Regions from separate parts of the Homo sapiens genome. Here region 2 is linked to region 1. The links come from fine-mapping of genetic effects on gene expression. Tissue or cell type: esophagus mucosa. Region 1 holds a variant in brackets; the other region holds the start of a gene. All regions are shown on one strand. Distances are between the middles of the regions.

The links. PIP is the estimated chance that this variant, and not a neighbour inherited with it, causes the effect.
Region 2: ARHGAP44 starts here. The variant in region 1 is fine-mapped to the expression of ARHGAP44 in esophagus mucosa (GTEx, PIP 0.91).

What each region holds. Positions count from the first base shown.
Region 1 is chr17:12,978,021-12,986,127 of GRCh38, reverse strand. ARHGAP44 (Rho GTPase activating protein 44) reads right to left here. Exons shown (of 21, transcript NM_014859.6): 19 at 5,895-6,070; 20 at 1,220-1,597. Among named protein-coding and RNA genes, the nearest start is that of ELAC2, 36 kb to the left of the region's middle. The variant G/A (reference allele first, on the strand shown) is at 3,370.
Region 2 is chr17:12,784,705-12,792,811 of GRCh38, reverse strand. It overlaps ARHGAP44 (Rho GTPase activating protein 44), which reads right to left and starts at 3,314. Exons shown (of 21, transcript NM_014859.6): 1 at 2,921-3,314. The coding sequence starts at 2,973. It overlaps ARHGAP44-AS1 (ARHGAP44 and MYOCD antisense RNA 1), which reads left to right and starts at 2,528. Exons shown (of 2, transcript NR_104607.1): 1 at 2,528-2,669. RefSeq lists a silencer at 3,038-3,387.

The DNA.
Region 1 (8,107 bases):
ATGGCTCTTCCCCGTAATATTTAAATCTGACCCAGTACAAACACTTGCAAATTGGACTAGCCTTTTCAAAGGCAGCACGGAGCTGAACCCCACAGGGTCACTGCTTCCGTCTAATCACGGAAGAAATAAATCACTCTTTTGGAGAAGGACGTGGAGGGAAAAGTGCATTATCACAAAAAGTCCCAGTGCATCCTAGGACAGCACTGTTCTTTGAAATGGGTGAGTGGGTGTGTGTGTATGTGGTGTGTGTGTTCCAACCCAAGCTGCCTCACCTTCTGCTACTTGGGACAACACTAGGTACACATATGCTCCAGCTCACCGCCATGCTACTGCACTTTACTAAGTGGGTTGGCTCTAGCCCAAGACACAGCTCAACCCTGTGCCTGTCTCCCTGAACAAGGAAAATGCTCAAATGACTTTAGCAGCCACCACAAATAGGCCCCTGACTTTATAATCTTATGTGGTTGAAGTGTCTGGGGAGATGTTCCAAAAACATCCCGTTCCTTCCAGCCAATGAATGGTTTTGGCTAAACGTGGTGTGTGTTTGCGATTTTGTGCTTACAGATTTTTCTGGGGGAAGAGAGCTCCGTCTTTGTTTCTAAATTTAAGCCCAAACTAAATTAAGTCGTTGTGGGTTTGTCCAATTAGCTCCTCAGGGAATTGGCCAGGGAGGGGAGTCTGGTGGAGGAGAATGGAGACATGCATGTTTTCTGAAATTCACCCCTCTCTAAATATCTATCTGGAAGTATATTTTTCTAGCAAGGCTTATTTTAGTAATAGTAAAAAACATCTTGGGTTCTTAGCCCCTGTTCTCCAGATAAGCATTTATACCTGTCAGTTGCTTGGGCTCTATCCAGGAAATACCTGAGTTTTGATGCTGTTTTGTGATCATAACCAGCTTCCAGCCTCTCCTGAGGCCCCACTCCAAATGACTCAGTGTCTTCAACCCCCGATAATAAGAGCAAAAACAGAACCCCAGGCTGGTGGGCTTAGACCGAGAGAGATCCCATAAGAAGCCCCTGTGTGGGACACATGGATTCCAGGGTTGCTTTCCATTGGTGGGCTTCTAAGGAGATCTTATGAGCTACCCCTGGTGCCAGCCCAGTCATCCCAAAGCACGCAGGAATGTGTTCACTGGCAGTAACACTAGCAATCCCTCCCCTAGGCACATTTCACTAAAGTTCATAAAAAAAAGTGAGGGAGCCTGTGGCTTGGTTACCTGTAGACATGCTTTCCCCAGGGGACATGCCATCTAGCATGGGGGCCTCCGTGGACTGTGGACTAGAGGCCGAGAGGTTTACTGTGGGAGGCTGAGGAGGCGGCAGAGTAGGTCTCTGTCGCGGCTTAGGAGTGGGCCGCGATTTGCTCAAAGTGCTTGTAAAGACAGAAGGAGAGGCCAGGGGAGGAGCTGCAGCTGGGGAGAGCTGGCCCGAGGCCAAGGAGTACCCCTGAGGGTAGCTCAGTCCATAGGGTGACGGGGTGCTGGGCGGGGTGGGGGACAGGCTGACTGGGGACGGCTGGCCAGCGGACTGGTCTGCCATAGCCCCCGGCTGGCCAAAGGGGACCTTGGGTGGAATCGGTGCCAGCTTCTTTGAAACTGAAAGAGAAAACACAACACAACAACAAAACACAAAGTTGTTGAATGAAGCCACTTGTGGGGCCTGTTCACACACCCTTCAGCGTTCAAAGCTGTCCCCACCTCCTGCCCCTCGCCACCCACCCACACCTCCCTGCCCTGCCCCCCGGCCTCTTGCCACATTGACAGCAGCCAATACAATTTTTAAAAATTAACCGAGAACTGCAAGTTTTCCTATCTTCCCATCTGTTAACTAATTTTTCCTCCTCTTTTCTGGATTTCTGCCCTGATCTACACACGCACACCCAGCCAAACTAGAGAACAAATTTCCCATCCACAGGAGTGGGCTGCCTTCCCAGTGGTGAGAGGCATCGCTGCTACTCTCTGAGCAAGAGTGAGTCAGTGGGGCAGGGTCCAGCAGAGGATGACTCCAGTTCAATTTGCTGTAATGGACAGAGGAGCCCTGACACAGGGGCAGGTCCTCGGGATAGAAAACTGACTTTTGGCTGAACCTGTCCAGTGGCTTCTGGCTCCCCTAACAGTGATATGTGAGCAAATCCTCCGGCCACAGAACCCCTGTTCCTTCATTACTTTATATGCTGTGCCTCAATCCTGCATCCCTGCTGCTGAGGCTTTCTTCTCATTCTTGTTTCTTCCTAGAATTGTACCCGCTGGTCTAAGCATGTATGGATCGACTGCATTTTTCGTTGTTTTTCTGGGGTTTTTTTGTTGTTTTTTTTTCTTTTGGAGACGGAGCTTTGCTTTTGTCGCCCAGGCTGGAGTGCAATGGCGCGATCGCCGCTCACCACAACCTCCGCCTCCCAGGTTCAAGCAATTCTCCTGCCTCAGCCTCCTGAGTAGCTGGGATTACAGGCGCCCACCACCACGCCTGGCTAATTTTGTGTTTTTAGTAGACACAGGGTTTCTCCATGTTGGTCAGGCTGGTCTTGAACTCCCAACCTCAGGTGATCCGCCCGCCTCGGCCTCCCAAAGTGCTGGGATTACAGGCGTAAGCCACCACGCCCGGCCAATCAACCGCATTTTTCAAAGTACATTATTGCCCTGACCTCCTTTGCCTTACCTTCATTATCCTTTTCCCAATCTCCCTATAGGATGACAAATCCATTATACCTTTAATTGAAAATGAATTGGTAAAGACAATAAATTCAAACGTCCAGGAGATACTTGATGGGCAAATATCTTGAGAGAGTGATCACTAACCTGTTAGGCTTAAGTGAGGACTGGCTGTGTGTGGGTCTGATTCCTTTTTTTTTTTTTTTTTTTTTTAAGATGGAGTCTCGCTCTGTCACCCAGGCTGGAGTGCAGTGGCGCGATCTCGGCTCTCTGCAAACTCCGCCTCCCGGGTTCATGCCATTCTCCTGCCTCAGCCTCCCAAGTAGCTGGGACTACAGGCGCCTGCCACCATGCCCAGCTAATTTTTTGTATTTTTGGTAGAGATGGGGTTTCACTGTGTTAGCCAGGATGGTCTCGATCTCCTGACTTCATGATCCACCTGCCTTGGCCTTCCAAAGTGCTTGGATTACAGGCGTGAGCCACGGTGCCCAGCCATGTGTGTGGGTCTGATTCTAGAAGGAATTATCTTGTAAGTCCTAAGGGAGAGGTCAGAAGCTCTTCCTTCTCCCCACCCCACCCCCACTCCCTCCAAGGAACAAGGTCTGTTAGGAGGACACCTCATGTATTCTCTGGGTGTGTCAGTCTGCAGTGTGGACAGAAGGACATGCCCTTCAGAATCCTACCAACGTGGGCTCAAATTTCTATCCTGCCACTTACCC[G/A]CTGTATTCCCTGGGTCAACTTATTCAAACATCTTCTATGCAATTGGAGGAAAAAGATTTTCTCTGCAGCAGTGTAATAATTAAATGAGATCATACATGTCAAGTACCACATAATCATGACATAATAAAACCACTTAACTTTCCAATTTCACTTTTCAACTCTACTTCCTGAGTACAGGGGAAGTGCTTCCAGCAGCTGCTACTGCAGCTCATGGCAGCCACGTGGTCATGGGTGACAGACGCAGGGGTACCCCTGGATGAGAAGCAGGTGGAGACCCTAGGTATCAATGCTTGCACATGCCTTCTCACGAAGGAGCTGGGGGACAGAGGATGCATCACCATGTCTGTGATGACATTTACCACTTCCGGTGGTGACAGGAATAGGATGTGAAATTGTCGGCACGCTGTCAGAAGACTGAGGTGTCAAAAAAAAAAAAATTAAAAAAAAAGACCTGCTAAGTGTGCCATCTGTGGGCATGATGGGGAGTAGAGAAGAAATGTATACCTTTCAAAAGATGGGTCTGAGCTATTGAAGGTCACTTGGGAAAGGGACCTGAGTCACTCTAGGCTACACTGGCTGCCTAGGTCCAATGTGCTGCAAAAACGAAAAGGGTCAACCTGTCACTGGCATTAGGAGGCTGGGTGGCTGCTACAGGAGCCCTGGCTCTCCCACTGGACGAGACAATGACTTAGCCATCACCCCTGTATTGTAGTGCTGTGGGGAAAGTTAAAGGACTCTTTTTTTTTGGAGACAGAGTTTTGCTTTGCTGCCCAAGCTGGAAGGCAGTGGCACGATCTTGGCTCAGTGCAACCTCCACCTCCCAGGTTCAAGCAATTCTTGTGCCTCAGCCTCCTGAGTAGCTGGGATTACAGACGCCCACCACCACGCCCAGCTGATTTTTTTATATTTTAGTAGAGACGGGTTTCACCACGTTGTCCAGTCTGGTCTCAAACTCCTGAGCTCAGGCAATCTGCCCATCTCAGCCTCCCAAAGTGCTAGGATTACAGGCAGGGGCCACTGCGTCCGGCCAGTTAAAGGACTCTAAAACAAAGAGGTGCCTGGCCGGGTACAGTGGCTCACGCCTGTAATCCCAGCACTTTGGGAGGCCGAGGTGGGCAGATCACCTGAGGTCAGGAGTTCGAGACCAGTCTGGCCAACATGGTGAAACCCCATCTCTACTGAAAATACAAAAATTAGCCAGGTGTGGTGGTAGACGCCTTTAATTTCAGCTACTTGGGAGGCTGAGGCAGGAGAATCGCTTGAACCCAGGAGGCGGAGGTTGCAGTGAGCCGAGATTGTGCCATTGCACTCCAGCCTGGGGCACAAGAGCAAGACTTCGTCTCAAAAAAAAAAAAAAGACATAACCAAGAATATGGCATCTAGACCAAGGAGAAACCATTGGTGCTGGAGAAATGCTCTGAGATGCTGAAATCTCACGCCGGCACTTTGGCCCAACTCCTATTCAACCTTCACGATGTCGTTTCCGCTGGGCCACCTGTCCTAACTCCTGAGTCGAGAAAGCATGCTCCCAGGTGTCCTTACAGTACCCTGAGTGTCTCCCAGCACAGTGCCAACACCTTTGCCTTATCATTGCCTTCCTCTCTGGAAAGCACAGAGCTCTGTACATAGCAGGATTTAATAAATTTGTGTAGAATGCAAAAGGAATGAGTAGGGATCGAATAAGATCCACGGGCTTGGTGAGGGCAGACAAAGAGAATGAAACTGCCACTGCAGATCGGAACTAAGGGGGCTGGAAAAGGGCCTGTCATGAAGGCACATGTGGATGAGCTAAATCCGGGCCCTATTCGACAAATCCAGGAGTTAAAAGCCGCTCCTAGAAGTGCGAGTGGTCTGAAATTAGAACACACAGGATGATGTATTATTTTAGACGAGTGAAAGACTCTGCAAAGAGATGACACAGGTAAGAACAAACCAAAAAGGTTCAGATAAGTACGCTCAGTACAGCTCCCCATTTATGAAATGTCACATGGAGCATACCTTTAGCTTTTGGAAGTGATTATCTGAAGAGATAATAACTGGTCAGTGTGGCCATTCTTGGGCCATTCAGAGCTGAGACTCAGGTACTACAGAAGCTATCCTGACTCCCTCCTGTCACCCTGTACGAGTGATCTAGGGGTAGGCAGCTGTGCCAGGCTGCCCTGCGGGGAAGGAGACTCCTGTAGATGACCCTATACAGCTTTTCAAATGACAGAGGTAGGGCCCGGCAGGTCTCTGGAAAACACACATCATTGTGGACAATGAATTTTGCCCTGGTGGCATCATTTGGTGTATGGGAAGCACTGGCCTCTATACGCCCCTAATGAGCCCACCTGTCAAATAAGTAAACTGAGGAATAATAGAGAAAGGATCCCTTTTAACTTCCAAAGCTCTAATGTCCAGATGGGAATTAGTCACTAAACCACACAGTTTCTCAATATCCAAGTTCATAGAGGAAAACGAGCCTTCAGGGAATGTCACAGCCACCTCCGGCCTGAGACCAAGGAGAAGGGAAGCAGGGCCATACCTTTCCGGAGGGTGTGAGGACTCTGGTCTGCAGGCGGCTGGCTGGGGCTGGGGCTGGCGCCCGGCTGAGCTCCAGGTTGAGCCCCTGGTTGAGTCCCTGCACAGGCTGTGCCCTGGCTGGAGCCTGGACTTCCTTTCTGTGCAGAGCCTGGAGAAAGTTCCTTGCTTTTTGTTGTGCTGAAACGAAAGCACATGAGACAAAAGAAAAGCCCTGAACTCAGTGAGCGGCAGCACCAGCCTTGCCGATGGCCACCCTGTGTGTCCTTCTGGGCCCCGTGCAAGTCTGTCCCAGCTCTGGTCTGTCTTGGCCCCTTCCTAAAACCTTCGCAGGTGCCCCTTGGGGTGACTGCCCTTCCTGGAGCTCTGATGGCCTGGGTTCTGCCCCCATCTCTGTGGCACTTGGCACTCACTGCCAATGCCCTTTTCATGCCTCTGCCCTCCTCTCTTCAAGGAGACCGTGAGCAATGTGAGGGCAGGGGCCTGAGCACCTCTACCGTATCCTGCCATCAACCCAGGAATTCTAGAACATTCTCAAACTGGAACACCAAAGTGCTTTTCCTACTGTAGCCAAGAGGACTTCTCAGGGCCACTGTGCCCAACGAGTGCTGATGACACGGACTCCTGCTGCCAAGCTTGTGGCCCAGCTCTCCAGCTGTTTGCCCTGAGCCTCCAGCCACCCCCCAGGCAGGAGGGATTCTAGGACTCATCCTCAAACTCAATACCCATTCCAGCAGAAGCTAGGGTGGACAGAAATCCAGGCCATGCCCTTAAATGTGGGCCAGTTTGAGTCCCAGTCCCAGGCTTCAAGAGAGGTGAAGGTCGATGGCAGTGAGGGCTCTGGCCTCTGACCTCTGGAATTGACAATGAGGCACCCTAGGTCACCAGGTTTCCTAAAGAGGATTCATCGTTACTGCAAGGCTGTTCCTCAGCCTTCTTCTGAGGATGAAGCACGTATTAGAAGACACCTCACTCTACACCACAAACCAGGGATTTGTCATCCTGATACGCTGATGGTAGATATTACTAATTGATCTCCACACTTCCCCCACAGTGTTCTCAATCCTTTCCAAGAAAATTCTCCAGGTGGCCTTTAGTGAATCAGGGGAGATGCCCCACAGTTGGGAGCCATCTGTCATCCGTGCTAGAACCTACCTGGATTCTGATGCCCACAGGTGGGGCATGAAGAGTCTGGGAACCCAAATCCTCTGCAATGGCTGTTTCTATCCCACAAGAGCAGGCACAACCTGGGCCGGGCATGGTGGCTCATGCCTGTAATCCAGCACTTTGGGAGGCCGAGGCAGGCAGGTCACCTGAGGTCAGGAGTTTGAGACCAGCCTGGCCAACATGGCGAAACCCTGTCTACACTAAAAATGCAAAAATTAGCTGGGCGTGGTGACATGTGCCTGTAATCCCAGCCACTCGGGAGGCTGAGGCAGGAGGATGGCTTGAACCCGGGAGATGGAGGTTGCAGTGAGCTGAGATCGTGCCACTGCACTCCAGCCTGGGCAACAGAGGGAGACCCTGTCAAAAAAAAAAAGAAAAAAGAAAAAAGAAAAGAAAAAAAAAAGGCAGGCACAGCCTATTTCTTTCCTAAACTGATCTAGAAACTCCAGGTGTTAATTTGGAGAAAATTCCAATAGGAATAGAGCACTCTCGTCCACTGAGGTGAGAAAGACTGGGAGCAGGGAGCTGGGCCGGGGAAGCCCATAGCGTCAAAGCACAGGTCATTTTCCTCATGCAAAGAAATAAAAGGAAGATCACATTCAATGTGGAGGCACATTCTCTCCCACTTGGGATGAGTCTTACACACTATACCTAGTTCCCCAAGGGGCAAAAACCATTTTATTCAGAGGAACCAAAAGAGCAGTAATTCCTTTCTCTATTCTGTTCATGAAAAACAGAAACAGAAAACCCTTGCCTCACTCAGGCTGGACAAGGACCTCAGGCTGCAGGTTACCAGGTACCCGGGCATCAATGCCAAATATCTACCTACCCTTCCATCTATCTCTGCCACTATCAAGAGGAAGGCCAGTCAACCAATCAAAAACATCTCATAATCAGCAAACTAAAAAATTGCTTCTTGTGGGTGGGTAGACTCTTCTTCCTTCCTTTGGACACACATCTATCCAAGGAATCTAGGAATGAGCTCTTCCTTCTGTTCCCTGCCACGAAACACACTTTTTTTTTTTTTTTTTTTTGAGATGGAGTCTTGCT
Region 2 (8,107 bases), 190 kb after region 1:
AGTATGTTTAAGTAGGGCAACTCCTACATTGTTAAAATGACTTTAAGTTTTATATTCAGAACTCCAGAACCTGCAACTTAGGGAAGGCGAGCCATGAGGAAGGACTTTCAAGTCCTCTTAGTCCTCCCTCGGAAAGAGGAAAACTTTAGAAAAATATAAGGATAAAAATCAAGTGCTTTATAACTGCACACCTAAAGTCCAAATTCCAATCCTATGTGCTTCTACTGATTTAAGAAATTAACAGGCAACCGCGGGCTCTTTTACTCCAATACTCATAGGATCATGACCCAAAACATTCTCAATAATAGAGGAGATACTGCCCCTCTCGCTGACCCTCACGGACCCTGGGGTAAACCGTTTTAATCTCGGCAATCAACACCGATTGAGAGTCAGTAGTCTAAACGGCATTGCACTATCTACACAGGCATACAACAGCAATCAATAGATTCTGCTGGAAGCAGACAGACAAGAAAATAAAAAATAAAAGCGTTTCAATCAGTGATGAGTGCTGTCCAGAAATGAAAAAATGATGAGCTGGAGGTAAATAGGGGAGGAAGGGCCTCTTGAAGGCCTTGGAACCAAGACTGAAATGATGAGAAAAAGCTACTTGGAAGGAGCACATTCTCAGCCAAGCAAAAAACAAAAAAAATGGGAAAACAGTAAAAACGAAATCCTCAAGGTGGATATGAGCTCAGTGTGTTTGGGGCAAGAAAGGCCACACGGCTAGAGCTCCATGAATGTGAAGAGATGAGAATGGGGAGAAAAAGAGTTAAGAAAAAAGGCCAACCAAGGATGGTCCTGTAGAACCCTGGCAAGATATGAGATGCTAAGCACAATCAGATGTCGCTGGAAGCTTTTCAGCAGCAAGGTAACATGAACTGGTTTTTGCTTTAAAAGGCTTGCTCTGGATTTCATCAAAAGCGATACAGGCTGGCCCTCACCTGGCCCAGTGCACAACACAATGGCTACCAACGGAGAAAGGCAGAATTCATCCATAGGCCAACATCCACCAGAGCCCCAACAAAGAAGAGGAAAGAACCTCTTGGTAACCAGCTGCTTGGACTTCCAAGAACGTGCTCTCAATACCTAAGACCACTTTTTCTGAAATCCAACCTCCCCTCACCATTTTGCATTCCCCCCATGGATGAGGCTGAAAAATAAGATATGATGCCATGGCGCAAAAATCTCCCCCATTTAAAAACAGGTCCTGAAAAAAAGAAGAATTGTGTTTCAGGAAGGCCAGGGAGGAGGCATAAACATGTTCTGAACATTTAGATTCTAGCACGGCACTGAAACCCCAAGACCAAGAGAAACCAGCAACCCAAGTCTAGTGTCAGGGGCCTCCTGGTCACTTGGCTGGTCTGAGGTGATGGCCAATGCCCGCCTGCAGGGTGACGAAGAAGCCAAGACATTAAAGACGGGTCGGCTTGACTGTCATCTGCTAAACAACGAATACCAGGAAACACTATCTCGGCATCCAACACATCAAAAGGCAGTCCACGTGAGGCTATATCTGTGGCAATACCATGCCAGAAATCTGGGCTAATCTGACTCTGCTATTCATAAATTCCCCCTCATGTTAAAGCACATGTGTTTGGGAAGGAAAAATGAATCCAAGTCAATTTTAGACATTGTTACTTGGAAACCATCTGGAGTCCCTGGAAGCATAAGAAGCCACCGCATCCCCTGCCCTCAAATGCCCACTGTAACTAGGGCAGTATGCTCAGACGGGAGTTCAGATGTCCCCTATTCCCCAGGGATGTCCCCACCCCCATCCTACCAGATGCCAGTTCAGGCTCCACTTCCCACCCAAGAAAGGTATTCGGTTTCTCCGTAAACCTAGTGGAGAGCCCTCGAGGTGTTGAGCTTGCATTTGAACTGCACCCAAGGCTGGATTCTTTGCTTTCTGATTGCTTTAGAACAGCACACCTGAATTCCTTTGCCACAGCAGCAACGGAAATCCCTCCCCAGGAGTAGGGGTTCCAGGAAAAATCCCTTCTACCTAACGCTCCTGTGTTCAAAGAATGTCTAGTCTTGGGAGCGACCCACCAGGATTTTTATGTAACCTTAATAGATGTTGGCACCCTGCAGAGCCGCTCCTGGAGTCCAGATGTAGCCCATTTTCACCGTGATGGCAGCAGGCGGGGTCTTGCAGCTTCCCGGGGCCTGACTCTTCTGACTGTGGGGCCTCTGTCCCCCTCCCCTACCTGGCTGCGATTCTCTGCTTATCTCATCTTCCCGAGGACTTGGGCCTCCTTTTTGCAGCCTCCCTCCCTCCACTGAAATCAGTCCTAACATCAAGCAGGCAGCAACGCCATTCCACCAGCACCTTCCTTCCTCTCCCACCCCTCACCCTTTCCCCCCACCAAACGCCTTAAGAAACCCGGCCAGGAAAGTGATCCAGAATCTCGTACAGTCATAGTCCCTGAAAACAAACACGGCGGGAGGGGCAGGCCGACCAGGCCCAGCACTTTCCCTGGACCCGGGAGCAGCCCTGAACTCGGCGCAGGGGAGGGGAGGGAAGAGATCTCCGGAGACCGACTGCGGTTCGGCTGCCTCCAGCACAATCAGAGCAAACACCTGTTTCCAGGAAGACAGGCGGCCAGAGGGAGAAGGGAGTCCCGGGGAAAGGCAGGGAGGACGAAGCGAAGGGGCAGCCGGGGACGCAGGTAAAGGATGCGTCACACTTTGCGCTTGGCAACCGGAGCCCGGAGCAGAAGGCGGCGAGTGAGAAGAGCTCCGGGGTCTGGGAAGTTAGGGAGGAGGGGTCGCGCCTGCGAGCGGCGCCTGGAGGGAGCTGGTGCAGGGGAAAGGACTGAGGCAAGGAGGACTGGAGGCTGGGCGGGCTCCATCACCTGCGCGCCCCTGCGGATGCAGCCTCGCGGGCGCGCACCGACAGCGGTGCCCGCGGGTGACCTACCTGCCCACCGTCTGGTTGGCCAGCTGGCGCATGCGATTGAACTGCTTCTTCATCGTGGCCCCGCTGCCGCGCTAGCCCGGGAGCTGGGGAAGGACGGAGCAGCCCGGAGCCCGCCGCAGGGTTACATGGCTCCCGCGCGGAGCCTCCCGGGCGACGGCGGCGGCACTGCGGAGCCTCCGGGCGCCGTCTGGCCCGCGCGCAGCTCCCTCCCGAGGGCGCCGCCGCCTACTCCTCCCGCCGCGCCGCCTCCTGCCGCATCCCCCTCACGCGCGCCGCGCAATGCCCGGGGCAGAGCAATGCCTGGGGCCGTCCTCGGCACCGGCCCGCTCCGCCCGGGCTGCCTGCTCCCAGTCCCAGTCCGGCGCGGGGACCCGGGAGTCTCCGCAGGCTGGCTGGCCGGCTGGCCCGGCGGTCCCCGTGCGCCTGTGCGGAGAACGCCGTGCATGCCGGGACTTGTAGTTTCGCGCCCCGTGCCCACCTTTCCTCTGTCCAAAGTTTGCAAGGACAGTGGAGTGCGGAGGTGGGAGAAGGCAGCGTCACCAGCAGCTTTGCACTTTAGCGTTCGAGTAAGGGAAACGTTTTCCTGTTTTAAAAATGGCAAAGTGGGACCAAGAATACAACAGCAAATAAAGAAAGTGAGCATCTGTCTCTCATTGTATTTTTAGTGAATGTGAGGTATCAGTGTTCTGAATTCACAGAAGGGAGATTTATGCTAGCAGATACGTGGCTGATAAAACGGTCTAAGGTCACCTGATTAATGATGAGGTTCAAGGTTAAGCTTGAAACACAGGGGCTGACAGCAGATTTTGAACAGGCATAGCTTGCATCCCAGAAGTCTGATTCTTAATTTTTACCAAACCAAACCCATTAGGTAACCAGAAGCCAATATAGATAAGTGACGTTGTGCTTACTGGCCCAACCTGTCTGAGACAGCTTTTTTGTATGGCTTAGATGCCAATCTCGTATCTAGTCCCATTTCCCTTCCACCACCAGGAGACCAAGGGGCATCAGCTGCAGCACCCCCCAAGTGTCCTGCACCACAGCATCCCATTGGCGTCAGTTGACTCCTTGGAAGGGGTTGTGGCTTCTTTGGTCTCTATCCTTAGAAAAAGATAGGTGAGCCGGGCGCGGTGGCTCACGCTTGTAATCCCAACAGTTTGGGAGGCCAAGGAGGGTGGATCACGAGGTCAGGAGTTCGACACCAGCCTGGCCAACACAGTGAAACCCTGTCTCTGCTAAAAATACAAAAATTAGCTGGGCGTGGTGGCGGGCACCTGTAATCCCAGCTACTTGGGAGGCTGAGGCAGGAGAATAGCTTGAACCTGGGAGGTGGAGGTTGCAGTGAGTGGAGATCGCGCCATTGCACGCCAGCCTGGGTGACAGAGCTAGACTCCATCTCAAAAAACAAAAAAAAAAGAAAAGAAAAAAAAGAAAAAGATTGGTGATTGCAGTTAGGTTTTATCATTATATATCAAGGTTTTATCATTATATATCAAGTAAAAGCAGTATTGTTGGGTGTGAGGCACTTTGGATTAAACAGATAGGAGTTCCTGCATCAGAATTCCACATACCTGTTATATAACCTTAGGAAAACAGCTTAACCTCTCCAAACCTCTGTTTCCTCATCCCTAAATAGAAAAATATGCTGCCTGATCTTCAGTAAGAGAACTATTTGTTAAATTACAATAATCAAATTACATATAAATTTTCATATAGTACATTGCCGTATTCATTTACTACAAAATGATTATATTTAGCATAATAGAGAAAAATCCTGTTCATACAACAGAATTACTAATCTTATAAAGGAAGGATCTTCTTTGAAATAGGATATTTTGCATATGTTGATTATAGTTGCAAGATGTCCTAAATATGGCTCTAAGTATCTTGCTGGCTAGCTGAACAAAAAGTGGTTTGAGGCATGTCTTGGCTGAATGAACATGAAATCTTTAATTAATTGTGAATTTAGCCTCTGCTTATTAGGTCAGACAACTCCAGCCAGTGAATAAATGAAGGCATTATTTGCTTTTAACCAACTATGCTGTACCTATAATGTCAATATGATGTCTATATTAAGTGAAATTATTTCCATTTTGAGATTTTTTAAAAAGCAAAGTACAACATGCTTTTTATGTGTATAAACGGTAAGACATTAAGGTCACTGTATGACTTTTAGCAACACTATCTCTGGTAACTTCCAGAACTGCACTGTTGAATATAGTATCCCCTAGCCACATGTGGTTGTTGCAATTTAAGTTAATTAAAGTTCAAAATTTGGTTCCTCACTTTTGCACTGTTGGTGGGATTGTAAATTACTTCAACCATTGTGGAAAACAGTGTGGCAATTCTTCAAGGATCTAGAACTAGAAATACCATTTGACCCAGCAATCCCATTACTGGGTATATACCCAAAGGATTATAAATCATTCTGCTATAAAGACACATGCACATGTATGTTTATTGTGGCACTGTTCACAATAGCAAAGACTTGGAAACAATCCTAATGCCCATCAATGATAGACTGGATAAAAAAAAATGTGGCACATTTTCACCATGGAATACCATGCAGCCATAAAAAAGGGTGAGTTCATGTCCTTTGCAGGGACATGGATACAGCCATTAAAAAGGATGAGTTCATGTCCTTTGCAGGGACATGGATGAAGCTGTAAACCATCATTCTCAGCAAACTAACACAGGAACAGAAAACCAAACACCGCATGTTCTCACTCATAAGTGGGGGTTGAACAAAGAGAAAACATGGACACAGGGAGGGGAACATCACACACCGGGGCCTGTCGCGGGTAGGGGCAAGGGGAGGGATAGCATTAGGAGAAATACCTAATATAGATGATGGGTTAATGGGTGCAGCAAACCACCATGGCACGTGTATACCTATGTAACAAACCTGCACGTTCTGCACACATATCCCAGAACTTAAAGTTTAATAAAAAATAAAATAAAATAAAAACAGAATTTAGTTCCTCGGTCACCCAAGTCACATTCGAAGTACTTAAGAGCCACATGTGGCTAAAGGCTACTGTACTGGACAGCACAGATAAAGAACATTACTATCCTCTCAGAAAGTTCTACTTGTTAGCACTAATCCTCAAGAACTCTGGTAGCCAACTCCAATATCATGCCAGCCCCTGCCTTCAATCCCAAGATTTTTCCGTTCCAAAGGGAAATCCCTTTGGCAGCCTCCCCTGCCAGAGTGTGGTCCAATAATGTTTTATTAACTGGTGGCTTCTCCACAGATTTTCTGTCTTCCTTTGAATGCTTCCTTCACTCAGGAAGCAGCTAGTACATTTTCTGCTTTCTACCCCGGGGAAGGGATAATAGTGCAGAAACAAGAGCTTCAGAAACACATGTGACAGAATAGAGTTCTTCAAGAAAAGAGTTTTGAGTTTCCAGAATACAGGCTTTGGAGCTTTAATAGTCTATGTCAGAAATAGTAGATTATAAAGCATATATCATCCTGCTTAGTCTAAATAAAGAACCTACAGGCTGTGAGATGTTGAAGATGGTGATGGGGACTGGAAAGCGGGAGAGAAAGAGAGAAGAAAAGTAGATGATGCTTGTGCAGATACTATTAATGCCCAAAAAATTTCACTGCCAATCCCTATGGGAAGGACTCTATTTTACCTTACTGTTGAGGTAAAGATCGGTCATGTGATTTTCTTTGAACAATGAATATGCACAGAGGTGACTTTTACGCTTCTTCTGAGGGCAGAAGTTTCAGGAGTCATTTTGTGATCCTGCCCTCTTCTTCTTAACGCTGCCAATGAACCAGTTAGGGGATGCTGTGGAACAGTGATGTGGCCCCCCAGCAAAAGGTATCTTTGCTGTTTTAAATCAGAGGTTTGTTGCTGTAACATAATTGAGTCTAAGCTGACTGCTACAGTGGGTTTCTCTGAGAAAGTAGCATGCACCTTGCTTTTACCCATGGTCAACAATTAGGTTGGGGGCAGGCAGACTGAAGACAGATATATCATATCGTTTTGGGGCATCTGAGCACAGTGGAGAAGCTGTACACCACTCCTGGAGTGAAGGCTAGGCATGGCCAAGCTTGTGGAGATCCTCTGCCTTCTAAGACAGAGGACCAGTAAGACATCTATATGAAGTGCCTCAGGTACCCATACCACAGGCTAGTGGCAGCCCCAGAGCTCCCTGCACCCAAGCCATGTGCGATGATTTGGTGTCTGCATGTGTGCTGTGAGGATACACAAATGTACCTGAAACAGCTGGATGTGAAAGCTATTGAGATCAAAGATGATGATCAGGAGGAGGAGGCAGCATTGGCCAAGATGGAGATGGAATTGCCTAAAACTTAATTTTTGCCACCTAGAAGAATAGACTTAATATAAAATTTAAATGTATTTGCAAAAGAAGAGGAGGAGGTGAGGAAGGACGGTGGGAAGGGGAAAGAAGAGGAGAAAAGAAGAAAGAAATTTCTATGTCTTATATACCTAGCTTTGACCTATGGGAAGATTACACTTCCCTGCTCCTGTTGACCTTGACTTTGACCTTGTCACTTGCTTTGGTCAACAATATATGGGCTTCTTACTTGCTTCAGCAACATTGTAGTACTATTTGTCTGAGATATGTTCCCTTAGAAATCTGATACTCCATTTAGAATCCCCTGAATTAGAATGGTTTTAACCTCTACTCTGAGAGCAAGCATTCACTAGAGCCACCTGGCCAACATGGGAATCATTAGCTACATGTGGTTACTTAAATATTATTTTAAATTAGGTTAAATAAAACAAAAATTTCAGTTTTTCATTTCAAGTGCCCAATAACTACATGTGGCTAGTGGCTGCCGTAGTAGAGAATGTAAAATAACATTTTCATCATCATAGAAAGCTCCATTGGACAGGGCTGGTCTACAGAACAGAATTCAGAATAACCTCATGTGTCACTTAATGACAGGGATATGTTCTGAGAAATACATTATTAGGTGATTTTGTTGTTGCAAAAACATCATAGAAAGTACTTACACAGCCAGGCGTGGTGGCTCACGCCTGTAATTCCAGCACTTTGGGAGGCCAAGGCAGGTGGATCACCTGAGGCCAGGAGTTCGAAACCAGCCTGGCCAATGTGGTGAAAACCCGTCTCTACTAGAAATACAAAATTTAGCTAGGTGTGGTGGTGGGCATCTGTAATCCCAGCTACTCGGGAGGCTGAGGT